Regions from separate parts of the Homo sapiens genome. Here all the other regions are linked to region 1. The links come from fine-mapping of genetic effects on gene expression. A gene starts in region 1. Each other region holds a variant in brackets. All regions are shown on one strand. Distances are from middle to middle. Region 1 holds the start of CHL1 (cell adhesion molecule L1 like). Region 2 overlaps LOC105376921 (a long non-coding RNA gene). Region 3 overlaps CHL1 (cell adhesion molecule L1 like).

The links. PIP is the estimated chance that this variant, and not a neighbour inherited with it, causes the effect. A credible set is the group of variants that fine-mapping cannot tell apart.
Region 2: its variant is the best candidate, but not a certain one, in a credible set for the expression of CHL1 in unexposed skin (GTEx, PIP 0.67).
Region 3: its variant is the best candidate, but not a certain one, in a credible set for the expression of CHL1 in unexposed skin (GTEx, PIP 0.73).

The regions. Positions count from the first base shown.
Region 1 is chr3:192,506-203,779 of GRCh38, reverse strand. It overlaps CHL1 (cell adhesion molecule L1 like), which reads right to left and starts at 7,017. Exons shown (of 28, transcript NM_006614.4): 1 at 6,717-7,017. CHL1-AS2 (CHL1 antisense RNA 2) reads left to right here and starts at 6,439. Exons shown (of 4, transcript NR_144487.1): 1 at 6,439-6,813; 2 at 7,272-7,324; 3 at 7,740-7,784; 4 at 7,866-8,022.
Region 2 is chr3:58,245-69,518 of GRCh38, reverse strand. LOC105376921 (a long non-coding RNA gene) reads right to left here. Exons shown (of 3, transcript XR_940533.2): 2 at 2,006-2,194; 3 at 1,802-1,892. It overlaps LOC107986040 (a long non-coding RNA gene), which reads right to left and starts at 1,634. Exons shown (of 2, transcript XR_001740550.1): 1 at 1,507-1,634. The variant T/C (reference allele first, on the strand shown) is at 6,230.
Region 3 is chr3:279,475-290,722 of GRCh38, reverse strand. All of the region lies in intron 2 of CHL1 (cell adhesion molecule L1 like), which reads right to left. It also overlaps the pseudogene RNU6-1194P. Among named protein-coding and RNA genes, the nearest start is that of CHL1-AS2, 88 kb to the right of the region's middle. The variant G/A (reference allele first, on the strand shown) is at 5,569.

The DNA of each region.
Region 1 (11,274 bases):
TGCTGAAGAAGCAACTGGAAATCTTGGGGTAGAAGCAGAGCACTGTCTTGTGATTTGACAGTAGTTATGTTCCTCTACCAAAAGCCATAGGTCCCACGTGACAGCCCTCTTCCAGAGCTACTGCTCCCACCTCCTTCCAGGAACTTCACCTTCCCATTATCCCTTCAGGACAAGGGGCAGTAACAGCTCCAGATGTGCTTCAGCAGCCCTTGTGGGCTTCCCCTAATCCCATCCAAAGAGATGTGGGCCCGTCTTTAAGGTCCCTTAATTACCTCTTTGGAGTAGGATCTATATAAAAGAAAGGAACAAAGTGAAGGTGAGAGGAAGCCATGTTTTACCCAGCGAAGATATGTCTTTCAAGAACATCAAGGGGACAAACCACTGGGTTCTAACCTGTGGCATTCTGCCACCTGGGCATTCAGGTCCAATACTGTGAGAACATCAATCCTTTTAAGATAAGCCAGAAATATGAATTTTACATGAAATCTCCAGTATTTAAATGTTGGCTGAAATTTGTCTTAAACATTCTTTGGGCCAAATGAAATATTTATACAAGCGGTGTTCAAAGTCCAAGGGACATTGGTTTGGCTCCTATATAGACTATGGTGCCTCTTCTTAGAAAGAAAATAAAAATCTGTTTTTCTTTACACTGCACAATTATAACCAAAAAAAGGATGAAAGTCTCATTTTTAAAGCTTTTTCTGACACAGTACTTTAGTCCAAAAACAATAACTCTCCCTACCTCATTGGAAGTCTGCAGGCAAAACAGAGAAATATTCAAAACCCCAAAGTCACAGGAATCTTGTTATCTGGGCCTGTTCTAAATGTATGAATCTAGTCAAATCACTTAATTTCAGTGTAGCTCACTCCATTCACATTCATCTGCAAATCAGGATAATTACTTCTTTCCTACCATCTTCACAGAGACATTTGGTTGAAAAACGAAATTATACACAGTAAATGAAAAGCACATTTGAGATCTTCAGAGAATAAAGTGCTATTTAAACCAAGAAGATTAGTAAGAAAAACCTCAGAAGTTTGCCAGAGCATTTTTTCTCTTTCAGCCACATTTCATGACACCAGGGTGACTGTGAACCAATGCCTTAGCCCAACACAATCTTGTGGACGGCGTACGCAAATCTAAGGTGATGGTTCTTAACCAATATTGGTACATTAGGGCGTGTTAGAATCGCACTAGAAGTTTTCAAAAATCCAGATTTCTAGTCACCATCCACAGAGACTGTAATTGAATTGATTTGGGTTGGTAGCTTTACAGAACTCTCCAGACGATTCTAATTTCAGCCAAGCCTAAGAACAACTATTGCGAAAACCTTTTAAATATGTGAAGCAATCATTATTGGTATATGTGCATATAATTAATGTAGGAATCAACAGTTTGCCATTTGACACCACCATTGATCATGGCTCACAGTTATTCACATACACAGGGATACACACACACATACGCTCTGTCCCTCTATCTTTGTTCATTCACATACTGAACATGATATAGAAGGATAATTATCACTACAATAAAAAACCGTGCTACTAATCTGTCTGCATAGATTGCCCCATACAATGTCCACAAGAACACATGTGACATGTGAGCTAAGTATGGCTATTTCCCCGTTTCTAAAGAAGAAACTAGTCTTAGAGAGGTCAACATGACTAAGCCAATGCCACACACCTGCAAGCTGACAGACTTAGATTTTGAACCCTGGCAGCCTGACTTTTATAGCCAGTGCATGTAACCACCACAACAGTTCGCTTCCTGCTGTGCCAGACACTTTAAGAGTTTATGAGATGCATAAAAGGAAATGTATACCCTCAAGGAGTTTACAGTCTGAAAAGGAAATTGTGATGCACACTAAAATTCATAGGTTGTATAGGAAAATGGCACAATTGTAGTCCCTGGAGTTAGGAAGAGGTGAATCAGAAGATGGGCAACAGAGCTCCTACCTCCACAACTATAGGGGAAATAAGATGCAAACAAACATTAGAAGGGAGAATGTTATAAGACTACCAGGAGAAGAAACCCTGGTCAAAGCATAAAATATAATTATATATTGACCAAGTTCAATGCATTTATCATTCTTATCATCATCTGCCAGCATCATTTGATTCAGATATTTATACCCACCCTAAATGTACCAAACTGTCAGTTCAATTAGCAAACTATGAATTTTGAGAATTCATCTCACCTCAAACTCTAGTTGTGATTCTTATTGAAATTATGTATATAAGCATCACACACACGCACACACACATACACATATACACTCACACACACTTCTAATAATTTAACTTCCAAAGAGATACACAAGTTGTATTCTTCACTAGGAATAAATTATGTGAAAGTGAAGTCAACATTTCAGGAAAATGCCTTAAAATTGAAAACGGAATATGTCCCTTTGTATTTTTATGATCTAAACACAATGAGAAGGTAAGCAGGATCATTTTTTACCCACAACACATAAAATCTCAATTAGTTATGGTCTATTTGTGCACTGACTTAAAACATTCGTTAACGAAACAGAATTTTCTAGTTTACTGGATAAATATACCAGAAATGGCAGAATAATGTCAGGTTGCCAAGCAACCACAGCTCTACTCTACTTTGTGATCAATCCAACTCATTCATTGAGCTTCCTAACCCAGTGATACAGAATTCCAACCAATTTGTTTCTTGGGAAAATTATAGTGACTTTCAGTAACACAATAACACTTTTATTCTCAGAAGATAAACTTAAATCCTTTTTGATCAAAGGGATGTGTTAATTCATTATTCTCTACGTGGTGCTAATGAGAAAGCTATAATTAACTAACTACACTATTGCGACACACATAAAATAAACTGCAGTAATTAGTAATGTTTAAGGTGTTAAGCAGCCTCCCAAATTAGAAAATACAATCTTTCCTCAGATAAAGATGTACAGAAAAAAGAAAGCAGCATATCTAATTAAATTGAGAATTGTTTCCAGTCTCCCCCAAGGGGTGAGAGGAAAGGCATGTGATCACCAAAATATAAGAGATTTCACTTTAATAGCAGAGAAAAGGCTCAATGCCAATTCTACTTGTAGATAGACATAAAATGATAGCGAATAATGTAATCTTTCTTTGAAAGAATGCTTAGCACAATATTTTTCCAGGAACAAACAGAAAGAATATTATGCTTTCACTCATTAGCTGTGTTAACTTAGCATATTGTATGTAAATGACCATAATAATTGCATTCTCTTCCGACTGAATTAGTCAGAATGAAACTGTAATCAAAATGTTCATAATTGAAAATATAGTATTCTCAATCTTGGTTTGAAAAAATAACAAGGAACGTTGACTGAATCAGATAATATAGTACATCACTGAAAACAACCTCAGTACAGAGACAAGTTCATTCTCTTGATTATACCTTTGCATTTCAATTAGGTCCCCAAATTCAGAACTCAACACCTCCCAATCTGTCATGTTTTCCTACTCTTACCATTTGTCTCTGGACTAACTTAAGCATTCCAAGTGCATTGCTGCTAGATTTTTAGGGAAAATAGAAAATGGTGAAAAGCTAATTTTATTGTTTCTAAAATACATTAGACTCTATTGCACTGTTGGCTGTCATAAATTAAAGGGCAAAATAATTTCCAATAAATGAAACATTTAATGCCAAAGCTCCTGGGAAACAATATGTAAATGATCACATGAATTTCAGAGAAGCTGTCACACTAATTCCTCAAGGTACCTTTTAAAGATGACATATTCACAGTGAGGATGAGAGGGTTGTCTTGCAAAGCCAAACACTGCTACCTGAAGTAATACTCTCAGTATTTCCTGACAATCATTCCTTCAAATCTGACACCAGTAGTTCCCCAACTATTACTTAATTTTCTTTTATCGGTTAAAAATACAAGAATCTTAAATCAGTCTTGATCGTTACCCTTATTTTTCTATAAAAGCGAATCAGGCTAAATTATTTCAACAAAGCAATTTTGGGGCAAATAACCTCCTATCTTCAAAGATTTCAGAAGCAACTATAAAATCAGGTTTCTATCTAGCAAATGTTTTTCTGGGTGAGCTCTATTTTGTAAAGGTCACTAAGGATCTTTGTGATGGTGACATCTGTCAGGCTTTACTTGCCTCAAGTTCACCAAGAAATGCCTATATTTTAATAATCAAATGATTTTAAAAATTTATTTAAAACCAATTCATGTAATGAGATGAATTAACTTAAATGCAATAAGTATAGTATGTGCAAAATCAACTCCTCTTAGACCTACAGCTAGGCCCACGAAGTGTACAGTGTACTTATCAGCAGATAGGTTGGAGGACCTATATAACCATGAGGAATCAATAAATATCTATAGCCGTTTCTTTGAAGAAAAGGATCCGTAAGTCTACATGCAACAGATAACAATCTGGGAAACATATATTCATCATCATAGTCTTGTGCTGCAGTGAAGTGGGTACAAACATACCCTGAAAGAGATTTTAATGAGTTGCCATAGCCAGTACTCACACCCATCCAGTAATAACTATTTGTCTCCATTGATTTGCTCACAATATTCAGGAGCTTGCAAGGAATGATTATACACTACGTTCTGCCATTACTAAAGGTAAATCCACTGCAGCACTTAAGGCCATAAAATGGAAAGCCAGGGTATACATAGGCTCTGTAACCACGTTAAATTATGAAAGCCAAATGGTGGTCCCTCACAAAGAGACTGAAATTAAGACAAACCCAACTGCAACATCTGCAGGTGAAAGAGAAAACACAAAGATTTACAAAAGAAAAACTCTGGGATAAACTTTTTATTTTCTTGTCACCAAAAGTTTCCCCAAAGAGCTTCCTAAGCTTCTCTCTCCATCAATATACTGAAAAGCCAACTTCATCGGCAGTTGATCAGTTTCTCTCTTCCAATCTGCTGCAAGGCAGAGCTTCGTAGGAGTTGGACTGTGCAGTACAAATATTCATATTTTAATTAAGATTATTCTCCAAAATTAGAAAACGCAGAATTTTTACTTCAATGAAAATGCAGAGAAATGAAAATGCACCATATGTAATTAAACTGAGGATTAACTAACAGTAATGGCATCAACGACAATAACTTTTGAGTGCTTATTATGCATCAAATATGCATATGGTGTTAAATTTAAAAATCTATGGTGTTAAATTACTTGTATCATCTCATTCCAGTCTTGCAACAACCCAGTATAGAGGGTATCGATAATCTCCGTATTATTGAGAAAGGGAAACTGAGGCACGTAGTTAAATGCCTAGTCCAGAGTGACGCATCACAGTGATGGTGGAGCTGGAATTCGAAGCCACGTGGGCGTCCCGGGAGCCTCCGCCTAGAGCGAGCCCGGGGGGCCCACCAGTTACCATCGCCACGCGCACGCGCAAATCTCCCCGCGCACGGCGCGTTCCCGCGGGAGCGCGCCCTCGCGCACGCGCCTGGCAGGGCAGCCGCTCGCCGGCCCTGGGGCTGCTCCGCGGCTCCCACGAGCGGGACTGGACGCCGGCGCCCTTCGAGGAGGGGCTGAACCTGGGGCGCCCTCTCTGCCGGGCCACCCAGCCCTGCCGACGCACACCTGCCCTCCGCCGCCGGCCTCCCACCCCTTCCCCGCCCGCCTTCCCGCCCAGCAGCCCAAACGCCCACCCTGCGCTCCACCCTGCTGGCCGTCTGGGGCGGGGGTACCTGGGCCCGCGCGGCTGCTGCTCCTCCGGCCCGTGGTTTTTCGCAGGAGTTCCCCGGCCCTGCCCCTGGCTGAGACACTGTGGCTCGCAGCGAGCCCGGAGAGTGGGAACGGAGGGGCTGGCTTTCCCCAGCCTCCCGGCTCCAATCCCTGCTCCCCAAATTAATCACTTTCTCCGTGCTGCCTCCCCACGCACACTCACACTCCAAAAAAAAAAAAAAAGCGAGAGAAAGAGAGAGGCACAAAGAGGAAGAAGGGACCATCCGCGACCGGCATCTCCAGCCCCCCGGGCTCCGCTACCAGGAGCCATGGCAACCACGGCCCCCGGCGCGCCCTCTCGCCCCTCGGCGGTCTGGGGAGGTGGAGCTCTAGCCCCTCTCTGGGTTTTCGTGCTCCCCAACCCCACAACCCCACGGTCCATGGATTCCCCGCTCCAGGCTGGCGGCATTTTCGGAACCCCCCCCGGGCTGGGATCTAGAATCCTCTCCTGAGAGGAGGAGCCACACAGGGGCAGTGGACTGGGGGGGTCTGAGCCCCACACACCAGGCGGTGTCCAGGGGAGCGAGGGGCGCGGTGGGAGACAGAGGCCGGGACTGACCCCCAGACCAGCTAGACCTCGGAGCCCCACCCGAGAGAGGGCGGAGATCTACGGGGGGGTCTGGAATCCTCCTCAGAGAGCAGCGAGGGATGGGGTGGCGGAGGCTGGAAGCGGGAGGGCCAACCTACCGGCGGCCGGCGGGCGTGAGTGGGACCCGGCGGATTCGGGCGCCCGGTGTGCTCCGTCGACTGACCCCGAGCTGTCCGAATCCGGCCTCGGCCACCGGGGGCGGGGCGTGAAAAGGGGGCGTCTCCTCCCGGGTGCAGGCTGAGGGGCCCGGACCACCCCCACTGCGGACGAGGGACCCTGACCGCGCCCCGCTTCCTTTCCATAACGAGTGGACCCCTCCCGGAGCACCTTCAGCCCTTCCTCCACGGGAGACCCCCCCAGCGCCGGCACGAGAGATGCCAGCGGACCCCCACCCCTGACACACCTGCGCCGCCTCCGAAACGCGATCTGTCCGGCGCCTCCCCTCGGGCGCCTTCTCCCCCGAGCCGGCCGGGAGCCGGGACGGGGGCGCGCAGGGTCCGGTAAGCTCTGGGCGGATCCAGGGAGGGTCTCGCCGGCCGCTGCCCGCTGGTCCGCACCCGGGGCTGTCCGCGGAGGTCCCGCCCGTCCCCTCCCGCCGCTGGCTCTCTGGCCGCGGGAAGGCTGGAGCCGTTCTGGCTGGCACCGGGGTCTACGCCCTCCTGCCGGAGGCTGGCTCTCGCCTCTGCTCCCTTCCTGGGTTCTGCGCCGCCACCCCTCACCCACGCCGCTTATCTTCCCTCCCTTTGCACGCTCCCGCGGGACAGGGAGAGTTACAGGCTTCAGACTTTATCTCGTTGTGGAAAGCAAGAGACCAAGCCAAAAACTTTGGTCGTGCTTTTCAACATCTCCGGTCAAAAGAGGTAGGATCCCTGCTCGTTTATCTGCAAAAGCGACATTTAAAAGAAACGCCCCCCACCCCCTCCCCGATGGTTTCACTCGGTTCATGTTGCACACACAGGTCGCCAATCTGCTTTTCTCCCATTGCTGCGTCTTAGAGGGGTGTGGTGCCATGTACGTATTAAAAATTGTCTTCTTGCTTTCCTTCATTTAAGGGCGTGGTGGGGCTTGCTATTGAATTTACAAAATATGCTACGACCATCCGCTGTCAAATTGTGCATGCTTAAATTTACAGATCTTCTACTATCTCACAATTTTTGCCCTAATACAGAGTCTATAATGTTACCACATCGTTTCGTAACGTTTTTCCTACTTATCCTTTATTAATTCACTATTGGAGAGGAAAGCCTTCTGTACTCATATTCAGTGCAAAAAGCCAGTTCTGATGCCTTATGAATCCACAAACACATAAAAATATTTTAGGATTCCAAAATTCATATGGAAAAATTATAATTTTTAGCACTACATTTGATTTATATGCCACTTTATTTTTTTTCCATTATGGTGGTATTTTCCAAAATTTTTACAGGATACCACTTTTGAAAATCCTGTTGAATGCAAGTCCTCTTTGTTGGTAAGAGAATTATTGACTTCTAATTTTTACTCCACTAAGGCTGTGAGATTGACCTTACAGCCTCGTTTTGTTTTCATCTAGCTCATTGAACAATGAGGATATTTAGCTCCCCTCAGAGCTACCCTCAGAGTTGGATGAGCTATCCTCAGAGTTGGATGCCACCACCGGGAGCAGCAAAAGCGAAGGCAACTCATGATTCTGCCTCAGAAGCAATCGAATAAAATATTTTGAAAATGAATGAATGGACTTTTAAATTTTAATCATCGCTAACCTTGGGGCCTCGATTCTGTCAATTTGTGTGTGGGCACAGTTCTTACCAACTGCCTTGGCAAATTGTGAATGCAAGTGAGGGCAGGATTTGTCCTAAGTTTAAATTGTACTGCTGGAGTGATTTCTTTTGCCTGAGGCATCATTATTCACGTGGCATGTTTTCTAAAGTAGAAACAAAGATAGAATATTAAATAAAATTCCAACAGGGGGAAATACTCTGCCTGTAGAAAAACATTTCCAAGGTCAAGGAACCACAAGAGAACAACAAAGCGAAGTTGGTCTCAGGAGTTTACCATCTTCTGGGTGAACAAACATCAGCTGAGCAAGGGACTCGGAACTCCATTTTGGCCAGATGAACAGAGTACTCTTAAATATATAGCTCCTTCTTTCTTGGTGATTTGTTTCTTGACAATAGAATCATTATTTACAAAACAAATATTTATTGAGCAGCTACTATTTAATCAATCACTGGTCTGGGTGCTGGGCTCAGTAGGAAACTCAATAGGCATGGCCAGTAGCTTTTTAAAAAATCAAATACCCTCCAAATATATTAGACAGTACCAAGCCACAATACCCAAAACAAGAAGATGGCCAGTTCTTAACTATGAGTTTTTAACTGAAAGGGAGATAACATTCTTCTAAGCTTCTGGCATTGCATATAAATGAAGAAATAATAGCCACACATAGCTTACTAGGGACAGTAAGGAAGTCAGCTTGTATGCAATACACGTTATCCCAGGCAACCAAATTTTACGAAAGAAAAGAGGGAGATAGGGAAAGTCTAGGGAAGGAAAAAAGGGAGGAAGGAAGGAAGGAAGGGAGGAAGGATGGAAAGAAAGAAGGCCAGCAAATGATAAACCAAGAAAGGAAATCGTACTTTTTAAGGCAATGCAAAAGGAAGACAGATGACCTAAATTTCTACATCCAAGAAACACCTCATAGCTGTCGCTTCCAAGGATGAGTTCATATTTTTGATACATTATCAAAAGCAGGCAACACATCTAGGCTTGCCTGGCCCCAGGAATTCACAACTCTACAGCCTGAGCTTCCAGTAAGGCTGGAACCAGAAGACAGTCCCCAGCCAGAGCGGATGCTTGCTAGAGATACCTTCTGCTGCTGCTTTGGAACCCTCCCCTGGCTCCCATTCTACTGTCTGACACTTGGTTCAGACCCATTTCCCATTCAACATACAATCCTAATCTATCAGGCATCCCACAGTTGCACCTAGGTGCTAGAGAAAGAAGATATACTTATGAGTCACATGGAAATGTGATTGCCGTAGCTTTGAAAGGTGTGAATTTTCTCTCTGATAATTGAGGACGGCCGTTTCGAATGAAAATACTAATATCAAGCCACAAAAATAGGGGAGAAAAGGGCCCTATCATGAATAGAAGCAGAAGGTGAGAGAGAGGCCAGTCATCTGGAAAAAGATAAAAGCTATTAAAAGCTGGGGCATTTTTCAGCTTTTCCTGCTGATTTACTGCCTCCCTCCCTCCCTCCTGAACCATCATTTGGTATCATTCCCAGAGCTAGGGCCATTGAAGTAGTATTGCCTTTTGGCAAATACAAGTAGCTAGTGATGTGGCATCATTCCTAGAAAAATTGTTTAGCAGAAGAGCTGGAGTTTTGAAAATGGCATTTCAGTCTAGCAGTTCCAAATAGTCACAGATCAACAGGGGCTTTCCGGCCAACTGCTGTAATAAAAAATAAAAATAAAAAATAAAAAGCAGGAAGCAGGATGTTCCACTGAGGAATAGATCCTTCAAAAGCAACCTTGAAAGTACAAAGCAGCCACTTCAGCTTTGATATTAATAAAGCTAAAAAGACCATATTAATTCTGCAGAGTTATCCTGACAGAGTCACTACTCCTTTAACTTGTCCTTTAATACAAGAACAAAAGGATATGTATTAAAAATCAAAGGGCAATAATTCTGGAACAACTAAAAAGGTAAAATCTTGTATTGCATGCCATGGATCATTAATATGTATAATTCAGCCCTGGGAGGTCATGAAATCAAATACTTTCACTGGATTTTTTAAAAAGGCTAAGAAACTTTGTGGCCATTAATAACATTATAATTATGTAGCCAAGATAATGTTAAGTGTTTTCAAATCTCATGCTTTAAGGCATCCATTGATTACTTGTGCAGGTCAGAAGGATTTCCCACCCTCCAATCAGCAATGCCTACAATGACTAGTTTTCTCTCCTATTGATGGTTTGCTCCAAAGTCCTATGCCCCCAAGTCTTATCTCAAAGGCCTGTGAACTGAGTTATAGGATGAATTCCTATTTGTTGGAGAAAGTCCTCATATGTCTGGAGGATGAGAATTTCTTCTAAACCTCTCTATTTCCAACATGGTACGAAATCTTTTCAGTCTGGAAGGGACCTCAGAAAACATAATCTTCCATAGCTTCTTTTTATATCTGAAAAGAGTAAGGTTCAGAAATTTTATCAGAGTTGTACAACTGGTTAATGGCCGAGAATATATTGAAAAAAATCTCCAAGTTTTTAATCTTGTATCATTTTACAGGATGAAAAGTCACTGCCATCTTTGAAGATAATTTTATTTATTATTATTCTGTTGCAGCAAACAAGACAAATGTCGAATAGTGGGATAGCGAGTAATACCAGGAGCATAAAGGCTGATCTTTTTACAGAGACACATAGCCAAAATGAAGTTTCTCCTTTTCTTTTTTTTTCCAGTTGTTTTTGAAAGTATGTTTTCCACTCAATGTAACAGAAACATGTTAGAGAAAAAGGAAAGACCAACAAGAGCTTGTGGCAGCCACAGGTTGTTCTCCACTTCCTCTGCCCACTAATCTGTTTTTTGTTGTTTTTGTTGTTGTTGTATGTGACGGAGTCTGGCCCTGTCGCCCAGGCTGGAGTGCGGTGGCGCGACCTCGGCTCCCCGCAAGCTCCGCCCCCCGGGTTCCCGCCATTCTCCCGCCTCGGCCCCGGGAGTAGCTGGGACCACAGGCGCCCGCCAACCCGCCCGGCTCATTTCTTCTTGTATTTTTGGTAGAGACTGATTTTCACCATGTGAGCCAGCATGGTCTCCTGACCTCGTGATCCGCCCGCTTCGGCCTCCCAGAGTGCTGGGGTTACAGGCGAGAGCCAATGGCGCCCGGCCTAGTTCTTTTTCTCCTTCTGGACACAGGGCCGCTAACCTAAAGACTAAATTTTCTAGTCACTCTTTTGACTTAGTTTGGTTCTAGGACT
Region 2 (11,274 bases), 130 kb after region 1:
TAATAACTGTTTTTATTTTATTTACCTTAAAAAATCCTCAAACATAAAATTTTATTAACTAGAAAATAAAAATAATTTCCTGGAAGGCTTTTATTTTCAGAAGTTTTCTAAAGACATTTGGTAAATATTTCAAACTCATGAAACAATACAAATAATAATATCCATAATGAAAGTAACAATTATTGAGGCTTTACTACATGATAGATAATATGATTTTTTAAAAAAAATAGAATGATAGTTTGGCCGAGCACAGTGACTCATGCCTGTAATCCCAGCATTCTGGGAGGCCTAGGTGGGCAGATTCCATGAGCCCAGAAGTTCGAGACCAGCCTGGCCAACATGGCAAAACCCCATCTCTACAAAAAAAAAAAAAAAATTAGTTGGGCATGGTGGCACACACCTCTAGTCCCAGCTACTCAGGAGGCTGAGGTGGGAGAATCACTTGAGCCTGGGGAGGTGGAGGCTGCAGTGAGCTGTGATTGCACCACTGCACTCCATGGGTGACAGAGTGAGACCCTGTCTCAAATACATATATATATAACTTTACATATATATATACTTTATTTAATTATTCAGACAAAGTTCTGAGTTAAGTATTATTATGCCCATTAAACCAATGAACAGACAGAAGCTTGGAGAAGCTGACAAACTTGTGTCAGGACACACACCAGTAAATAGTAAGGCTAGGATTCACGCCCAGATCATCCCCACTCTAATATATAACGTTTAATAACCATAACATATCGCATGATTAAATTATATTTGGCAAATGAGAGGGGATTTATGTCCATTCAGTTTTAAATAAAATCACGGCTTGGAAAGCCAGAAAAGTTTTATTAACATCCATGTCGTTCAGTTAAGCTTATGTTGAGCGTATGTCTTTTAAAAGAAAGCTGCTTCTAAATTATTGATCAAAGCCTGTGAAACTCAGGAAAGGAAGAAATCGCAGATCTAATTTATCGACCATAGATCCCTAAATACAAATTGATATAATCAAGTCAACCAGCCAATTTTAATAAACCTTGTCTCCATATACATAATCAATGATATGAATTTAAATTAACTGTCTCATATTTTTACAAGAATAGTCTGCAACATATAACACTTAGGGAGGAATATATGTGGTCATATGGGAAACATGTCTCTGTTGCAATAACGTCAAACTGAAAAGTCTTAAATTAAACATCACTTGAAACATAATAGATGAATACACAGTTTAAAAATGTCCTGTAAAACTTTTAGTATTAATGAACATGACTACTCTCAATTCAGATACCACCATTTGTCATGCTCTATCAGGCACTTCACATACTTACTGTACTAAATTGTCACACAGTTTAGTGAGATAGGTATGACCTCCAATTCAGGTCTGAGGACATGGAGCCACACAGAGGTTAAATCACTGGTTCCAAAACCCACAGACGTTAAAGGGACCTGGCAGCAATTCATAGTTAGGTATGGTGGCGCTAAGTACTGCTGCTTTTTCAACTAAATAAGATTGCTTACCTCTGTAAGTGCTAGACTTCCATTTCCTATGGCTTGCAATTTTATCCTATTATATTTTCACCAATACTTATTTATTTATTTTGACATAAGATATCACTCTGTCTCACAGGCTGGAGCACAGTAGCATAATCATGGCTCACTGCAGCCTCAAACTCCTGGCCTCAAGGGGTCTTCTGGCCTCAGCGTCCCAAATAGCTGGGACTATAGGTGTGTGCCACCACCACGGGCTAATATTTTTTCTTTTCTTCCTCCCTTCCTCCTCCTCCTCTTCCTTGTTCTTCCTCTTCTTCTTCTTCTTCTTCTTCTTCTTCTTCTTCTTCTTCTTCTTCTTCTTCTTCCTATTTTTTGGTAGAGATGGGGGTCTCCCTATTTTAATCGTTCATGTCCTGGAATATCATAAAACAAGTTATATTTATTGGGAAAAAAGTAAAAAGTACACCTTAATCATATTTTTCTGTTTAAATTGCTTTGACAGTTTTACTAAGGCTTTTACACTAACCTTAATGTAAGTGTTGTTTGTACAATTATTATAAAATATTTATGGGTGCTGGGACATCAGGATCCAATTATAAATTTGCTTGCAAATTTAAAGTAGCAATAATTCATGGGCCTTTGAACAAAAATCCCAATGGTTAATGAGTGAATAAGGGTTTCTCTGGTTTGGGAAACAAATGTTCGTAGAAGACATCTGCAAATAGATCATAAGAAGAATGTGAATGCATCACCAATCCTCCATCTCTTTCCTAGACATCATCCCCTTCTACATAGGGTTTGCCATTAGGAATTTTTATTTTGGCCACCAGTAGTCCCTAGTTGTCTGATCACAGACAAGTTGGCTGAACTTACTGAACTTCAGGTTAAAAACTAAAAGCTTATTTATTATGAAAATAACAAGATGGGCTGGGTATTGTGGCTTTACACCTGTAATCCTAACACTGTGGGAGGCCCAGGTGAGAGGACTGCTTAAAGCCAGGAGTTTGAAACCAGCCTGGGCAACATAGCAAAACCCTGTCTCTATTTTTCAAAAAAAAAAAAAATTAAAAAGAATAAAAATGAGAATAATAAGATGAATATAATAACATGCCATCATTCATTTTATTATATTAAATGTAATTGTGATTGTGAAAAGAGGTTTGTAAATACAGCACAAATTTGAATTTATGTTCCTAGTGCTCTTAATACAATTCACCCAGTCCGGTCTTTCAATTTTATATATATTGAGGTCCAGGTAATAAAATGAAGTACGCAAGGGCACACAGTAACATTTCTAAATACCAAGACTATGTTTTTCCTATTCTTTCATGTTGATTTTTATGAGACATTACTCCCTCTCACAGCAACATCGTTGCACAGATGCGCGTTGCACAGCTCTAGAGGGCACCATTCGTATTGTGATCTATGAGTAACACATGCCTTGAAACAGAGCTCAAGATGAATGGCACCCCCCGAAGTTGTGTGCCAGGTGGCCGTTTTCAATATTGCCATCTCAACTGGCTTTTTCTTTCCTCTATTAGATACCTGTCAACAAACCTCATTGTTTTAATATTTTAAAATGCCTGTCCATTTTAGTGATTACCTTTGCAACAACTTTTTTTTTTTTTTGCTGAATAAAAGGTCTGCGTCACATTTAAGTTTTTCTCAAAACCTAACACCTTTTTAGAGCCCTGCAGTTTTGGTGGCCATTGGAGACTTCAACATCCACCTGAAATCTATGCTTTCAATATTAGGATTTCCAAAAATAAAGGATTCTTGACTACATCCTGAGTTTTTCCCTATTATTAGATAATGTCAATTCTTCAGCTTTCAGAAATATTATACCACCTTGCATTATTTTGTCCCACATCTTTCTGACATCCTGAGTGCCTTATTTAGCCCCTGACCAGCATTTCCTCTCCAAACCCAGGAATGTTAGCATCTCCAAAGGGTTAGTTCTAAGCTCTCCATTGTTTCTTGTCTCTTAGCCATTGACTATATTCCACTGCCAAGATGAAGGCTTTTGGACTCAGACAGATCTATGTTTTGAATCCCAGCTCAGCTGTTCATTATATGCATCTCCACTGAACAGAACCTGGACTCTCTGAGTTGAATTCTTTCACTATCAGACAGAATTGATAACACTAATCTCACAAGATTGGTCTGAGGAATAAACGGTGCCATATTTAGAAAGCATCATACGTCCTCACAAATTATAGTCCTACTATGGTGATAATTTCTGTCATTGCCTTTTCACTGGAATTTGAATTCTTTTGGGGCTGGAGACTATGCCAGCTGTGTTAGTCTATTTTTATACTACTATGAATAAATACCCAAAACTTGGTAATTTATAAAGAAAAGAGGTTTAATGGACTCAGAGTTCCACATGGCTGGGGAGGCCTCACCATCATGGTGGAAGGTGAAGGAAGAGCAGAGGTACATCTTACGTGGTGGCAGGCAAGACAGTGTGTGCAGGGCAACTGCCCTTTACAAAACCATCAGATCTCATAAGACTTATACAGTATCATGAGAACAGCATGGGAAAAACCTGCCCCATGATTCAATTGCTACCACCAGGTCCCTCTCATGACATGTGGGCATTATGGGAGCTACAATTCAATGTGAGATTTGGGTGGGGAAGCAGCTAAACCATATCACCAACCTTGATCACTATTGTATACTTAGTGCCTAGAATGGTGCTTCCACATAGACAGTGCTACATACATGTAACCTGAATGTAAGCTGGCACCCATGTAGTAGAGTTTCTGAGGAGAATCCTAGTGACATTCACTCAGCCCAGGAGCCAGAAGTAGTGCAAACTGCAGCACATCCATTAACTTGCATTTCTCAGAAAAGGAAAACTGTTCATTTAAAATTTAAATTAACACTTTGTAAAATCTTCTTTTCCCTTTTTCTTCTAACCTATCATCCTCTCACAGCTCTCATTTCTTTCTCAATTCCTCACCCAAAACTTCTTTGCAAACCTCTTAGTTCTCTTCATTCCCTATATCCAGCAAGTTCTGCACCATGTTCATTTTGAAATATATGTTTTCAATGCACCTTAACTATAAATAATTGACTCATGTTATTCTGTCATATTGTAAAGGATTCTGCAAAAGCCCTAATGCCTAACAAGGAGACGTTACTACTAGAGCAGAAAAAGTGGAAACCGGTGTAAACCCAAGGGGACCATCAGAGTATAAGAAACAGTTAGTCTCCAGATCGGACAAATGAACATGTTCAAAGCAATAGAATGTGGAATCAGAATGAGGGAAGGCTCTGACCTAAACTGACTTTTGTGTTGCACTTCCTAATAATTTTGTGAAGTTCCACTCTGTCCCTCTTCATGATAAATTCCTGAGAGCAGAGACTTCAGTAATTCATTTATTCCTTTTGTAACAGTGTCCCAGCAAAGAACTAAGCATACTGCAGATTCTCATAAGTTGAAAAGGCACTTTTAATACATCTGATTTACCTTTCTTTAGGCCTGTAGAGACAAGGAGAAATAATCCTCCTCAGGAAGCTGAAGGGGGTAACTAGGGATACTAGATGCTGAGAGAATCTCTCCTAAAACATTGAATAAAATCTCCCTTAATTCAAGTGCTTTATTATTTCACCCCACATACATTTGAATAGAGTGCTGGTAACAAGTCTCATTCGCCTACTGATGATATTACAGAGAAAACGTTAATTGTTGGTGAAGAGTAGTTTAGAGAGTTTGACTAAAGAGTAGCATGATCTAATGGAAAGATGTAGACCTGAATTCTTATCTTTGCTCCAGCAATTATGAACTGTATGATGTGAAACAAGTCCTTTAATCTTTCAGTCTTAATTTCTATCTTTATCTGACTTCATCTTGTAGGGATGTTAGAGATTAACAAAATATTTAATGTAATACCTAGCATAGAATATTTCCTAAAAATTTGGTAGTATGGCCTTCATAATACTACAGTATTTTCTATATATTTTAACCTGAAGCTAGCAACCCAAAAATACAATCCTAAAAAAGAGAGATACTGAGGTTTTACCAAGAGTAAGATTTTCTTTACACTGCCATTTAATCTCTTTTTAAAAAATATGTTCTCTATGCATTGACTATTCCCATTGCATTTTGTCTACTCCTTGCCAGTTTTACCACTCACATCCTTCTGACTTATGCTGATGTTTTTCAAGTCTTGACTTAGTCACCTTTTGAATGCAATATTCAGGCTATCTAATTGGGCTTCATAAACCAACTCCTCCTGGATTTCAGTTATTTTCTCTGCTTGGTTTTGAGTTTCCCATTTAGGTTTGTTCGGGATCTTGGCACAGGTCCAGAGGAAGGCAACATGCCTGGGGTGGGGCATCCCTAGACACAATGTTTTACCAGGTATGGGAGAAGTCTCTATGCCCCTGGTTATCTTGCAAAACCTCATTTGCTTCTGGCTGAGAACAGATTGCCCTCACCCTCCCCTTCATTTCGTAACTGTGAGAACAAAGAAGTCTGCTCCTGTGAGAGATAAAGTATTCAGCAGTGTTTGAGATGATTAGAAACAAGAAAAAGATTTCTTGTGGGTTTTGACAGGGCTTTCTCCTCTGCACTGGTGGAAGACAGAGCTTTAGTCAATATTCTGCTACTAGCCAAGAGGTTTACCGCAATTCTGATCCAAGCCTAACCCTGCGAAACAAAGAATTTCTTCATGCCATGAATAATCTGTGTTCTGCAGGCTGGGTGACCTCCTTCCCCGAAATGAAGTGCATAAGTGACTTT[T/C]GATCTAACAAGTTTATAGAGTGACTTCAGGGAAATCTCATGTTTAATTTGTGTATTGACCATGTAAATATGCGGCTTTGAATGTGATTGTTTGCTGCTGATGAGCCATCAATCAAGCTGCATTTTAAACTTGCTTTCGAAGCAGTGTTTACTTGAAATGAGTGTTTAGAAGACAGGGAGGAGGAGGGGGACATTTTAGAAATGTTCTTTGAGGCTATTTTAGAGATGTCCGTGACACCTATTTGCACATTTTGGGACTTTTATTCAAGTCAAAAAACATTTACTGAGCACACACAATATCCTCAGAAATGAACTATAAATCAGGACATAACATTATCAGTAACATTTTATGCTTACTCTGGGCTAATGCCTATTCTACTTTCTGGGGATTACCAAGAGCTAAGAGAACTGTATTTGTTTTCTAGGTTGCTGTAACAAATTACTACAAACCTGGAGGCGTAAAACAACAGAAATGTATTTTCTCATAATTATGAAGGCCAGAAGTCCAAACTCAAAGTGTTGGCAAGGTCACACTTCCTCCAAAACTGTAAGGGAGAATCTGCTGCATGCCTATCTTTTAACTTCTGGTAGGCACCATCAACCCTCAGCATTCCTTGGCTTGTAGTTGCATCATTCCAATCTTTGCTGCTCTCTTCATATTGCCTTCTCTGTGTATGTCCTCCGTTTTGTGTCTATCTCTGACTCCCTTTTCCTTTCGCTTTGAAGGATACATGTGTGATTGTTAGTTTTATATATTAACTTGACAGGGCCAATAGATAGGACACCAAAATCCCTCTCCATCTGTGGACATGAGAACCTCGAAAAAAAAAGTTATCTGCCTCCAAAATACAATGATGGGCAAGTGTAGTTAATAGTTATAAACACTGCCATTTTAAGGGAGACAATGGAAGATACAAAGTGGTCACTGATGCCAAGCCAGTTCAAAATCCAGCAAGGAAAATTTCCTTAGGTTTCAAGACCTGACAATTATTTTCTGTTGCTTGAAGCTATGATCTCTGGGTCTGGAGCTTTGCCCTCTGTACCCAAGGCTCTGCACTCAGAGTCATTCTTCTCTTTTTTTTGAATGATAATACATGTTTGTAGCCAACTAGTTCTATCAGCCCATTTTCTGCCTATAAAATCCCAGAAGTCTGACAGTCTGCCTTCATTATGTCCCATGTATGTCCCTTTCAGGCCAGTCTGGCAGTGTTTCTGCTGATACAATATTCCCCAAAACCTTGTGGGTCTCCCATGTTTGTCACAGGGACTCATATAATTAAACAACAGCATACTCCGTAGGCCTTTCCTGGATAAACCCAACTCTTCTTAGCTTCTGTTGAGACGGTTGAGTGAGTTCAGAAGTCACACATCTGCAATTATTAAATTCCTGTCCAGCCACAACTTTGGCTTTCTCTCAAGAGCATTTCTTTTTTCTAACGGTGATCCTTAGTCTCAATATTAGTTAGGTTTCTTTTTAATCCTGATAGGTTGTAAATTTCCAAAATTATTAAATCATCATTTCTTTCTGCTTAACAGTTCCTTCCTCAATCCATTTATTCCCTCTTGCATTCTACAATAAGCATCAAGAAGAAACCAGGTTGCACTTTTTGACAGCAGACCTGGTCATCTCCTTAGCTAAATATCCAAGTTCATTGCTTATAAATCCTGCTTTTGACACAAAAATTGTAGGACACAATTAAGCCAACTTTTCTGCCAGTATATAATAAGGATCCCTTTTCCTCCAGTTTCCAATAACATGCTGCTTATTCCTGGTGCTGAACCCTCTTCTGCCGTGCTTCTAACATTCATATTTCTACCAATATTCTTTCTATGACAACACATGTATTCTCTAAAACTATAGAAGACTTCCCTACCTTGTTCCTCACTTTGTTCTGAGCTCTCACCAGAATCTCCTTCAATGTCCATATTTCTACAAATAGTCTGTTCAAAGAAGTGTAGTCCTTTGTTATCATGCTTCCTCATATTCTTCCAGCTTCTATCACTATGCAATTGCAAAGCCACTTCTACATTTTTAGAAATTTATTACAACAAATATAAAAAACCTGAACCTGGCCTGGTGGCTCATGCCTCTAGTCTCAGCACTTTGGGAAGCTGAGGTGGGAGGATCACTTGAGTCCAGGAGTTCGAGACCAGCCTGGGTAACATGCCAAAACACTGTCTCTACAAAAAAATAAAAAATTAGCCAGACCTGGTGGCTACTGTCAGGTACTATCCCAACTACTTGAGAGGCTGAGGTAGAAGGATTGCTTGAGCCCAGGCCGTCGAGGCTGCAGTGAGACATGATCTTGCCATTGCACTCCAGTCTGGGTGGCAGAATGAGACCCTGTCTCAAAACAAAGCAAAACAAAATAAAATCTGTATCAGTTTTCTATTACCACCGTAACAAAGTACCACATGTCTGGTGGCTTAAAAGAACATAAATTTATATTCCCCAAATTCTAGAGGTCAGAAATCTGAAATCAGTTTCACTGAGTTGAAATCAGTGTCAGAAGGGCTGTGCTCCCTCTGAAACCTCATGGAGATAATTTGTTCTTTGCCTCTTCCAGCTTCTGGTGGCTGTAGCAATTCCTTAGCTTGTGGGCCCATCACTTCAATCTCTGTCTATGTCTCACATCACCCACTCTTCTTCTGTCTATCTTCTTCTTCTTTGTGTGTCTGTGTCTAAATTTCTTCCACCTCTCTGTGATAAGGATGGATGTGATCACATTTACCTTGCACTAGGATAATCCAGGATAGCTCCACCTCTCAAGGTCCTTAGATTAATAACATCTTTTGCCCTATAAGACAAATAGTTATTCTTTTGCCGTGTAAGATAATGGTTACAAAACCTGGGGATTAGAATATGGACATATCTTTTTGTGGGGGCCACCTCACTGCCTACTATAACAATTAATAATCAATAATATCCTGTTTTATGTCAGACATTCTGCTAAGCATTTTAAGTATTATTTCATTTAGGCTTTAAAAAGATACCTTAAAGAATGTGTTATTATCTCCATTTTATAGATGAAGAAGTTAAAAATCAGAGAGGAATTGTCTAAATTTATTTTGTGTTGCTATAAAGGAATACCTGAGACTGAATGATTTATAAAGAAAAAACTATTTGGCTCACAATTCTGCTGGCTGGAAGACTGGGCATCGCGTGAAAGGCTCAGGCTTCTTCCACTCAGAGTGGAAGGTGAAGGGAAGCTGGCATGTGCAGAGATCACACGCTGAGAGAGGAAGCAAGAGAGATCATGGAGAGGTGACGGGATCTTTTTAACAACAGGCTCTTACGGGAACTAAGAGTGAGAACTCACTCACCACCACACCTCCAGGTGAAAGATTCATTGTTGTGTGACGGCAGCGTTAAATTCAAGCAATAAGGGGGAGACTGTGCAACTTAAAGCACCACTTTGTTTCATGTTTCTGATCCGGTGAAAGATTTAGAGCAAGGAACCTAGACAGATCATGAAATGAAGCTGGCCAATCCTGAGTGCTCATGAAGCAACAACTTGGTATCAAGTTTTCTGTGCGTCACCTTCGAGTAAGACAAATGAGAGAAGATGGGGTTCTTTCCTGAAAGAGAACGCTAATAATCATTTAAATGCACATGATAGAAATATTAAACACTGGTGATGGACAGAACAGATTGGAAAGTAAAAGGTCAAGTATCAGCAATGGCCCGAGACGGAAGAAGCTTTGGAAAATTGGCATAGACACAGTCTTCAGTAGAAGCATGTGGCTGAGCAGACAGAAAAGGAGAAGCAGATGGAGGTGATGGATGACAGGCTATGTGTTTGTGTGTGGGTTTGTCTGATTGGAGTAGGACTCAAGGACTGGATTGAAGAGGGAGGTAATTAGGTAATTTCTTTTTCTCCAAACCACTGAGTTTTTGTTTTACTTTATAAAATAACACCTATTAGTTATCATTATTATTAGTAGTAGTGTTTCAAACATAAACTATGTTAATGTGATATACAAATCACACAAACACATAAGTGAACATAGAAAATAAAGACTGCTGGTAATGGTAACTTGCAGAAATAACCACTGTTAACCTTTCATTCTGAATGTTTCCTATTGTATATATTCATCCACATCTATTTGTACACTTTTCTTCTACTTTGGGGTTATGATACACAACCTACCCTGTAGCCTGTTTTCTTTTCTTTACTTAAAAATCTAAGATTTTTCAGATTACATATTCCTCCTAAACATAATTTTAATGGTTGTGTAACTTTTTGTTACACAGGTATATTAACACCAATTTAAATAATTTTTTATTTTTCAGTATTTAGGTTGTTTCCTATTTTAGCTTCTTATAATATTAATCTGATCAACAAATCTGCATCCATGTATTATGTGCATGTAAACTGGATTATCATTTTAAGTGTGAGACAAGAAATTCCCAGCAGTTATTCAATATTAATATGTTTCTCTCTCTCTTCTCCCTGTATATATTACACAGACACACACAAGCATATAAAATAACACTACAAAACAAGTAGCAATATACCAGCAAGGCTGAAGAGGTAACGGAAATACATAGATGGAAAATCCAAGATACAAATTCAGTTCTCTCTAACAACAAATTCTAAATTGTCTCCTCTATGACACTACTGCTAATAGTAATAATAACTCGCCTTAGTTGAGCACTAACTATGTGCTAGGCAAGGTACTAAATACTTTATGTAAACTGTCTCATATAACCCTTACAACATCTCTATAAGGTTGTAGACGCAAAAAGGGGGTGATCCCTTTTCTCCTCATAAAGGGTCATGGCCAAAACTCCCCGTAACAAAAGAGAGCTTGATAAGAGACAAGCATAACAAATTTATTATGTGCATAGGAGTCACACAAAAAAATATTAAAAACTCAAAAAAGGGCCAGATGATTGATGCTTAAATATCCTCTTCATTGGAGAGAGGAAAGTGAATGAATAGACCCAAGGACAAGATAATGATTTATCAAAGATTCTCTTTGGATGCTGAATGCAACCAAAAAACACACAATAGCTGGTGGACAAGTTAGAGAAGGGTGTG
Region 3 (11,248 bases), 87 kb before region 1:
CAGCAATTCCATAAAGTTCCAAATGAGGAAAGGGGTTTATGCATTCTTTCAACAAGCATTAACTGAATGCCTACTGTACTCTAGGAACAGGGCCAGGGTCAGAAGTAGAGAGTGATGAAGACATAGTTTCATCCTAAATTATGTTAGTCAGGCATGACTAATTAGAATTTGTCATTCAATTAAGCAAACAGAAATCAAGAGATGGAAGAAAATACTAAACCCAGGTCTTTCATTGGCTTCTGATGACTAAAAGGAGCTCATTTTCTCTTTTCTAACCTAGAATATAAATACTGTCTGTTCTCATTATCCACAGATTCCATATTTGCAAATACAGCTATTTGCTAATATTAATTTGTACTCCAAATTAATACTCACAATATTTGTGTGATCTTTCCCCAACATGTGCAGAGAATCACAAAATTTGAGTTACCCCCTACACATGTTGCCAGCTGAGGTTGAACAAAGTGAAACTCTGCCTTCATGTTTCAGTTCTCTTACTATAAACAAGTGGTTTTTTCATGGTCTATTTAGTTCTTCTCATTTTTATGTTTTTTGTTTATGATTCTGCTGTTTAAAATGACTTGCTGTTTAAAAATAATGCAGAAGTGCTCCCTAGTTTTCTTAAGCACAAGGAGGCTATAACATGCCTTACAGAGAAAAAAACTGTGTTGAACAAGCTTCAATGAGGGGTGAGTTACGGTGCTATTGGCTATGAGTATACTGTGAGTATACTGCACTCCACCCTGGGTGATAGAGTGAGACTCCATCTCAAAAAAAAAAAAAAAAAAAAAGATACCAGTGGAGCAATGTATCTATGTGCTACCATAACAAAAATGATCATTTTTTTGGTATATTTGATGCTCGAAAGCACATGAGCATCAATATGTATTAAGTAAATGTATTAATGAGCATACAATATGTATTAAATAAGATGTATTAAATCAATATGTATTAAATAAATGTATTAATGAGCATAAAATATGTATTAAATAAGATATGTATTAAATCAATATGTATTAAATAAATGTATTAATGAGCATACAATATGTATTACATAAGATATCATTAAACAGAAATACATATAAAATAAGATTATGTATTGATAGATTGACAAAAATGTGGCCAGAGTCGTGCAGGAACCAAGCTCTTATTTACCTACCAGGAGTAATTGTTCAGTATTTACTAATTCAGTGTTTGCAGAGACTTTATAGAAGATAACTACCATGAATAATGAGAGATGGATAAATACATATAATTTTAGCTAGATTCTATAATTGCTCTCATATTGTGAATTATTAATGGCAAAAACCACAATTACTTTTACAACAACCTAATATTTTCAGAATAAAATCACTCATCTTAATCCACAACAGGGAATAAAGCAAATAATTTCAAGGATTAAGTAATGTGTTATCGGTAAGTTTGAGCACAAAATTAAATATGATATCAAGTTTTTATGTCTTTAAGATAAAAACCAATAAATCTAACTTTGCAAATGCATTTTTAATCCCCAAAATATTATATAGATGTTTGTTTCATGACTCCCTTTTAAATGAAAAACAGTTGTTACATTAAAGGAGTAAAACTAAGAAATTAAAGCAAAGTAAGTGATGCCAAGATATTATTCATTTCTCTTGAGTTCTAGGCTTCTACTTCACACATTTTCTCCTTGATCACCCTTCGCATTGTCATTTGACCTGTTTTCCAAAGGAAGAAATGTTGATTAAAAGTATCTGAAAGAAAGAAATCGGGAAATAAAAACAAAAAAGAAGCTCACAAAACCAAAGGCATGATGGAAAAAAATGATAAAGTCTTCATCTAATAACACTAAATAGATAAAAGTTGTAAATATTATCGAAAATATTTTTCAGTTGCACAATTAAGCTTGTCTCAAACTATATTTAATGATAAGCTGTCTTCACTATATAAAGATGGTGTTACTGGTCCCACTGATTTAAAAACCCTTCACAGACAATTCCCTGTGGACACAGCCTGACACATAGAGAATGCAAAGATGGAGCGCATCCCGCCCATGCCATTCGTCAGAAAAATGCTGAGATCCTTGACCAGTAGAGGTAGGGGGTTGGCAGGGGAGCAATCACATCCTCCTTCATGGCCCCCCTCCTGTGACAAACAACGTGTGTGAAACAGCAGCCCAGGGATCATGATAGGATCTGTGGCAATGCAACAGAGCCAAAAGACAGACTCAGAGGAACAGTAGATCTGTAAACTTGACCTCATTAGTAGCAAACTGTAACCAGTTGCTAATTACCTTCTGGATATATTGTACATTAGTAGCAAACTGTAACCAGTTGCTAATTACCTTCTGGATATATTGTACATTGTATATGCATATATGTAAATTATGCCTGTATATATGTAAATTCGACATGTGTTTGTCACCTAAAATTTGCAAAAGTTTAATATGATGACTGCAGTTAGAGAGAGGAGATAATAGATTAACCAATACCTTCTAATGAAAATGAAGGTAAAATCTTAAAGTAGTGACCAACTTTCTGGTGAAAAATGCACTAATTGTACTTAATGTATAAACTTGGTCACCTTAAATTAGCTTTGTTTCATCCTGTATTCTGAGGAGAACATATTTCAATCAGAATCCAAGTAAAATAAGGCTAGCTAAAGAATTCCAGTGAAGGCGGGTCATAGTGGCTCATGCCTGTAATCCCAGCACTTTGGGAGGCTAAGGTGGGCAGATTGCCCGAGGTCAGGAGTTTGAGACCAGCCTGGCCAACAGGGTAAAACCCCATCTCTACTAAAAATACAAAAAACTTAGCCTGGCGTGATGGCGCACGCCTGTAGTCCCAGCTACTCGGGAGGCTGAGGCAGGAGAATCGCTTCAACCCGGGAGGCGGAGGTTGCAGTGAACTGAGATCGTGCCACTGCACTCCACCCTGGATGATAGAGTGAGACTCCATCTCAAAAAAAAAAACAAAAAAAGACACCAGTGGAGCAATGTATCTATCTGCTACCATAACAAAAATGATCATTTTTTTGGTATATTTGATGCTTGAAGGCACACACTAATAAGTAGCATGCTATCAGTAAATTAAAGCATCTTACTAAATCCAGTTAGTTCTATGTATTGTAAATATTACCTAAAGAGTTAAATATATCAAATCAAAGACTGGCATTTATTATCTGAGTAGAAGACATTTTAGGATGGATTCTAAGATTATAAGGAGGTATCTCAATCATCTTTCCCAAAGCACCTCTACTGTAAAAAATAACTACAACATCAAATGGCTTGCGTGTCTCAGCACAAATTTATATAAGAGCAGGTGAAAAGACAATCGAATGTGTAAACCTATCAGGTGGCAATTACGGTTTGCAGGAAAAGTTCTTCAACATTCAATATACATTGAGTGTCTGCATGTACCTGGCACAGAGCTATTGTCTAGAGAGGGAGTGGTGAACAAGACAGATTTCTTCACTGACCTACTAGAATTTACATTCTAATGATGGTAAATATAATATGTATTAATATATAATATATGACATTTTAAATTTTTATATTATATGTTGATACATATGTGAAAAGTATAAATGAAAATGTCAGAGGCGTTTGAACCAGAGCAACTCCATCTTGAATGGGGGTTAGGTAAAATAAGGCTGAGACCTACTGGGCTGCATTCCCAGAAGGATGGGTATTCTAAGTCAGAGGATGAGATAGGAGGTTGGCACAAGATACAGGTCATAAAGACCTTGCTGATAAAACAGGTGGCGGTGAAGAAGCTGGCCAAATCCCACCAAAACCAAAATGGTAATGAAAGTGACCTCTGGTGGTCCTCACTGCTCATTATATTCTAATTAGCACGCTAAAAGACACTCCCACCAGTGCCATGACAGTTTACAAATGCCATGGCAACGTCAGAAAGTTACCTTATATGGTCTAAAAAGGGAAAGAACCCTCAGTTCTGGGAATTGCCTACCGCTTTCCTGGAAAATCATGAATAATCCACCCCTTGTTTAGCATTAATCAATAAGTAACAATAAGTATAAGCAACTGGGTAGCTCATGCTTCTGTTCTGTCTATAGAGTAGCCATTCTTTTATTCCTTTACTTTCTTTGTTTAATTTTTTTTTTTTTTTTTTGAGACAAAGTCTCACTCTGTCACCCAGGCTGGAGTGCAATGGCGCAATCTCGGCTCACTGCAACCTACGCCTACTAAGTTCAAGTGGTTCTCCTGCCTCAGCCTCCCAAGTAGCTGGGATTACAGGGGTGCGTCACCATGCCTGGCTAATTTTTGTATTTTTAGTAGAGATGGGGTTTCACCATGTTGGCCAGGCTGGTCTTGATCTCCTGACCTCAGGTGATCCACTCACTTCGGCCTCCCAAAGTGCTGGGATTACAGGCATGAGCCACCATGCCCAGCCCTACTTTCTTAATAAACTTGCTTTCACTTTACTCTATGGACTTGCCCCAAATTCTTTCTTGTGCGAGATCCAAGAACCCACTTTTGGGGCATGGATCAGGACCCCCTGCGAATAACAAAAAACATTAAGGGTTGTGATAAGTGCCTTGCAGGAGACAAACTGGGTGGTGTTATCTGGGGTAGGGTGGGCAGAGACATCTTACACAGGAGGCTATGGAGCCTATCTTGGAAGGGGATCTCTAACTTGGAATCAGAATTATGAAAATGGGGGTAATAAACTTTATGTATTATATTCATTACATATTATGTTCATTTATAATTCATTACTGTAATTATGTTCAATCTTGAAAGTGACAGGAGAAAAAAAACTGCCAGAGAGAAACAAAATGCAGAAAACTGAATAAAGTCATCACAAGTCTGGAAACACTGCTTTCTCTCTCATTGCAACCATTTTTCTTTCCTAAGCATCAAGGCAGGCACATTTTTTTTTTCATAATTAGCAGTGATCATAGAAAGCAAAATAAAAATATTGTTGTTGTTGGTTTTAGGTCACTTCTGAGGGAAACAAACATTGCTAATCATAAAGTTATGATTTATTGAGCATTAGCTATGTAATGTGCATATTATACATAGTATTTCATTCAATCCTCACAAATATTCTAGAAGACAAGAATTATGATCTCAATTTTAAAATTGAGTAAACTGAGGTAGAGTCTACGTAGTTTGCCTGAGAGTACACAGCTGGGGAGGAGTCAGGCTTCTTCTCTGGAGCCCAGTGAGACTTGTGAGCCTGTGAATTTTAAGTACCAGGCTAGAAAGCAAAATTAGGGAAAGAACTGAAATGATTATCTTCTCTGACTTCCTTTATTCATCTGATCACATTCCCACTGACTGTACTGAATTTTGTACTCAATTGCTTAATTGCAGTATAAAAATATACATTGGCTCCTCTGGTGACACTACTTTTAAATGCCATTGGCATTTTATAGAGAAAATGGTGGGAGGGACTTCATCAGATTCCATTTAAATGCCCAAGTCACCCAGCTGTCATAATGTCTTCCTCAAACAAGGTTGTATTTTGTAATTCATCTCTTCCCTTTACAGAATTCTGTATCTCATCAAGATGTTTGACTTGCAATTCCAGTTTTGACTTGATCCAGCATCTAGCATAAAAG[G/A]TGAAAGGTGATAATGAAACTTATTCTAATTATTTCAATTATGCTTGAAAACATGCGTAAGCATGTTTAAACACACAAATATGCTTAAAACAGCTTTGTATTTCCAGTGGATAAGCCTACTTTCATAAGGCAAGCATATGCAAAATAGTTCATTTTAGACATCTATTTATAAGGGAAATATTCATGAGAATAAAAATGCAGAATACATTATTTGATTCGTCAAACAACGATATAATAGATTCTGCAGAATTTTGTACTTAATTGCATTATCTACTACCAATGGAATTATAAATGAATCCACGTACTCATAGCACAGCTATATATAATTATCCCAAGGTCTGATTAATGTCCTTAGATCTACTGAGGTTGGAGAAAAAAAAAAAAAGATGAATACGCATTTACCTGCTTTCTTTTAAATGTATCAGGCCAGGATTTTCCTCTGAACAGTTTTCCCTGGTCACCACCATCTCCCCAGCAACATATAATGTCATGAAGATAGAACTAAAATTTGTCTTTTTCAGTGAACAATCACTAGTTCTTATCACACAGGATATTTTAAGGTCTGCATGTCTCATTTTTGCTTTTCAATGTCTTACCAGTTTTCACGGCATTGTCATAAAACAACGCCTTTACATTGGTAGGGCTATGCTCCCTCAATAAAAAACGTCAGACTTCTCACACGGTTTGGAACAGTTCCCAGTGGCTTCCACACAAACAATCTGGTGTTTTTCACAAATATGGGTAGAGAAGCAAGTTGATATGCCACCAAATGATCATCCTTTTGCACTCCTAGCATAAACCTCATATGCTATAAGAAATAAGTAAAATTAATGAATAAATTTTTCACATCTTTGTTTGTTTTCCTCTTATTATTCATTTCTCACCTTAAATGTCACCTCAGAAAGTCCTTCCTTGTCCACTAATCTCATGCAGCCCCCCTGTCTTTCCCTTATAACTTCCTGCCTTATTGTAAACAAAACACTTATTAGTAATATCTTTTGTTTCGTTGTTTTATCTAGTTCCACCGAAAGTCTGTAAGCCCCATCAGGGCAGAAACTTACATTTCACGAATGTATCCCCTCTACCTGGCAAAGTACTTAGTGGATAATTGGTACATAGTAAGTGTTTGTTGAATAATAAATGGGTGGATGAATCAGTGAGGGAGAGTGTGACTATCTGGAAAATACATATGTAAATGCATTCATTCATCTGATAAATTCCCTACTATTAGTCATTGTTAACATTTATTTTAATCATACATACTGTGATAAAAGAAGGAAAGGATGCTTTTATACCAGCTGTTCTCAACTGGGGTGGAGGAGAGGGATTTTTCCCCCACGGATGTTTTTATGTTATCTGAAGACATTTTTGGTTGTTACAATTGGGAGAATAATACTGGCTTATATTGAGATGCCGGGGATGATGGTTCTAAACATCCAATGTATGTACCCATGGGGTAGTTACCCACACAATGAATGATCAAGCCCATATTTCAGTAATGCCAATAGTTTACACTAGAGTCTGTATTCCTCATATGAATTTAATTTAACATGTATTTATTAGACAACTATCATATGCTAACATCAAATTGAATTCCTGTGAAGAAAAAGATATGTTAGAGACAGATAGACAGACAGATAGATGAATAGATAGTTGACTGGCTAGACTAATGAATAAAAGGATGGATGAATAAGTACTTCATAGATACATGTGTACATAAATAGAAAGATAGTCACAACATTCTACAAAGGACTAAAATAAACCATGTGTGATTGCTAATCTCAGGAAACTTATACTCTTGGTATTATCTAATCATGTCTCCACATAATTCATTCTATTTAATAGCAAAATGTTGGATCACAAAAAAGATACATGCAAACATTAGGGGAAGACTGCAGGCTAATTTCTGCATTGAATGCTAATGATATTCGTGAAGAGAATGGCTATGAGAAAGTGATCATCAAGTTTTATTTATGTACTGCATAAAGCAAACATAATAATATCTTTTTCAAATGAAAGGTTTGTGTTTCTTTCCCATAAATGAGGATCCCTGTGTCAAGTGAGAGATGTATTCACTATGTGAATGGAATGGTTCTGCATGTGATTAGGCAGAAAACTGGAATACAAGGAAACAATCAGAGCAGGAGCTGTTAGAAAACCACCAGATGCCCCAAAAGCAGGGCTTTTACTTGGATCCCTGGACACAAAATCAAAGTATTTTGTTTTCTTAGAAAGACCCTGTATTCTATACAGTATAGTCCAGAAAACAGATAAAAAGTGGCAAAGGCAGGATTTATATGGAGAGAAATAGTAAGTTCCCCCAAGTCTTCCTCATTTCTATTGCAGTATGGAAAGATCCAGAGTGCTTGCTTTGGTGACCCATCTAAAACTTGAATGATACAGGGAAGGTTACTATGGTCCTTGGGCAAAGATGACATGCAAATTTGTGAAGCCATTCACATTTTTCAGTGGGATGACATATTCAATGTGCTGAAGGAGAAAGACAGTCAACCAGTCACAAACAGTCAACCAAGAATTCTATACACAGCAAAACTATTCTTTGAAAATTACAAAAATAATAATAAGACATTCTTGGATAAACAGAAACTGAGATAATTTCTTACTAGCAGTCCTGCACTGCCAAAAATGTTAAGGATCCTTCAAGCTAAAATGAAAGAACACTAGATGTTAACCTCAATCTATACAAATAAATAAAGAACACTAGTAAAGGAAAATACAAAAGAAAGTATTAAAATATTGTTGTAACTCTTTTCTTCTATCCGATTAAAAGACAACTACATAAATCAAGAATTATAATACCACGTTAATGGGCTTACACAGTATAAAAGTAATTTGTATGACAATAACAGCCAAGGAGGAAAGAAGTAACAGGTACATATTAGAGCAAAGTTTCTGTATACTATTAAGTTAATTTTTATCTGATCTAGATTATTTTAGTAAAATGCTAATTGTATTCCCCAGAACAGATACTAAGAAAATAGTTTTAAAGCTACAACAAAAGAAACAAGGTAATAAAATGGCATGCCAGACAATATTTATTTAATGAAAAACAAGGCAGATATGAAGGAATAAAAAAGCAAAGACATAGAAACACCAGGCATCAATTCTACCTTATCAGTAATTATATAAGACATAAATGAATTAAACACTAACAAAAAGTAAGGATTAGCAGAATAGTTTTTGAAATGATATGATTATGTCGTATCTAGAAGAGATAAACTGTATATTCAAAGGTATTTACAAAGCAAAAGCAAAAATATAGGAAAAAGAAATAGGCTGGGCATGGTGGCTCACGCCTGTAATCCCAGCACTTTGGGAGGCCAAGGCAAGCAGATCACTTGAGGCCAGGAGTTCATGACCAGCCTGGCCAACATGGTGAAACCCCATCTCTACTAAAAATACAAAAATTAGCCAGTCATGGTGGCATGTGCCTGTAATCCCAGCTATTTGGGGGGCTGAGGCATGAGAATCGCTTGAACCCAGGAGACAGAGGTTGCAGTAAGCTGAGATTGTGCCACTGCATTCCAGCCTGGGCGACAGAGTGGGACTTTGTCTCAAAAAAAAAAAAAAAAAAGGTACAAATTGGAAAAATAAAACAAATCTGGGGTAGTTATATTAACATTAGACAAAGTAGACTTTAAGACAGAGGTGAACCATCAACAAGAGAAGATTTCTGGGCTCTGGTAGTCCAGGAGAACCGACATGACCACAACTTTACCAATAGTAAATCATAGTGGTGAAGGCAAATAAGGAACCAGAGGATAGCACAGTACCCAAGCACTTGGATGTGAGGTCCCTTTCTATTGTACTCCTGGAGTTATGTAAATTCTCAAGTTTGTGGGCAAATTTGTGGGGAGTAGTAGTGGAAGAAGGAATAACTATGAGATACTGCACAATTACTAGGGAGATTAAGTTACTTCAAGCAATTACAGGGCTTATCAACCTGAGGGCCCTTGAAATTTCCAACTGAATAATTCCTTGTTGTGAGGAGATATGCTGGGTGTTGTAGGAGAATTTAGGAGAATCACTGGTCTCTACCCTTGAGAAACCAGTAATACAAGTCATTACTACCAAAAAATGTATCTAGACATTGTCAGATGTCCCCTAGGGGAAAAAAATAACCCCAGTTGGGAATTACTGGGTTAGAAAATGTGATATCATTAATTAGAAATCCTGTAGCAAACAGTTGTTGTGTGTGCGTGTGTGTGTGTGTGTGTGTGGTGCATGTGTGTGTGTGTGTGGTGCATGTGTGTGTCTACGTGTTTTAACAAAGACACTTACTATTAGTTAACTTTTAAAACCAGAGAGGAAAGTTATTTCCACTCTATTACTCATTAAAGAAGAGTAATGATTAAACTTACTACCCACCCAACCAACCAAATTTTTCCTATTTCATCTCTACCCTTCACTGACTCCTTCTCAGAGAAAAAGGTATTTTGTTGGTGGTAGTAAAGGTGATAGTTTCTAATGGTGGAAGCTCTTGAGTCCTGCATCTTGTGACCATCGTTGAACATCTCCCTTTAAACAGTTCCAGGTTGTCTTTCTCAGGGCCTGCTTGATACAGTAAAATTACCAGAAGCAGTTCTGAATTCAGCTTTACCAGTAATAAAATTGTTTCAGCACTTTAATTCTTATCTAAATTATTCAGCACTTTAATTCTTATCTAAGTTATTCAGCACTTTAATTCTTATCTAAATTATTTTGTGGCTCTTCAGTTTGCTGTTATTAATAAAATAATTTGCCACAGATTCTCTTTTCTAGTAAGAAGACTGATGTTCAATTTTCTTGACATACTTTGTTAGAAAATGGTATAGCTACCATCCATGACAGTGCCACAGTCTCCTGAAAATCCCTTGCAAAATCCCTCATTCTTTTAGATACAAAATTTTCATCACTGTTAGGTACACTAAAAAAAAAAAAATGCCTAGACTCTACTAAGAACTTTTTAAATATGAATTTCAGTTTTAAATTTTATTTTTATCCCGACTTAGCAAAGATATTACATGACACTTCACCTGAAGATCCATGCCTCCAAAATACTTATCTTTACACACCTATATTTATTTCTTTTTATTTTCTTTTCAGATAATAGAAACCTGATTTTAGGACAACATAACCATAATCAGCAGTTAAAAAATACTCAGTGTGAAAAAATGATCTACATTTTCCTACAGTGGTTTTATACCCAGGATGAAAAAATAAATGCTTGTCAAGTAAAGGCATTAACACATTTTCAAGTGACTTCTCAAGTGCAATTTTATCCCTTGTCTCAGCATTTCATTTATACAGCATTTATTAATCAAGTCTAAGCAGCCTTTAAGTCCCCAATCCCTACTTCGGATTCCCTTCCAATCACTGCCCACTTCTCTCATTGTCTCTGGTACTATCTTTCCTCCCTCCATTGTTTCAGTTCAGCTTTTTGCTCTGCTCCTTCAATCATTCCAACTATACTATCCTTTGAGAATAGCAGTCATCAATTTCCAAAACCATAGAACAAGGACTAATGTTTATACTTTCAAAGGAGATTCAGTGAATAAAAAAGACCATTTAAGAAATGCCAGGAAAAATTGATTACTCCAGAATTCAAAGCAACCAGTCCAGATTGTGGAAGAACAGCACCATTTGTTCCCTAGACTTGGTAGTGACATAAAGGGAAAAG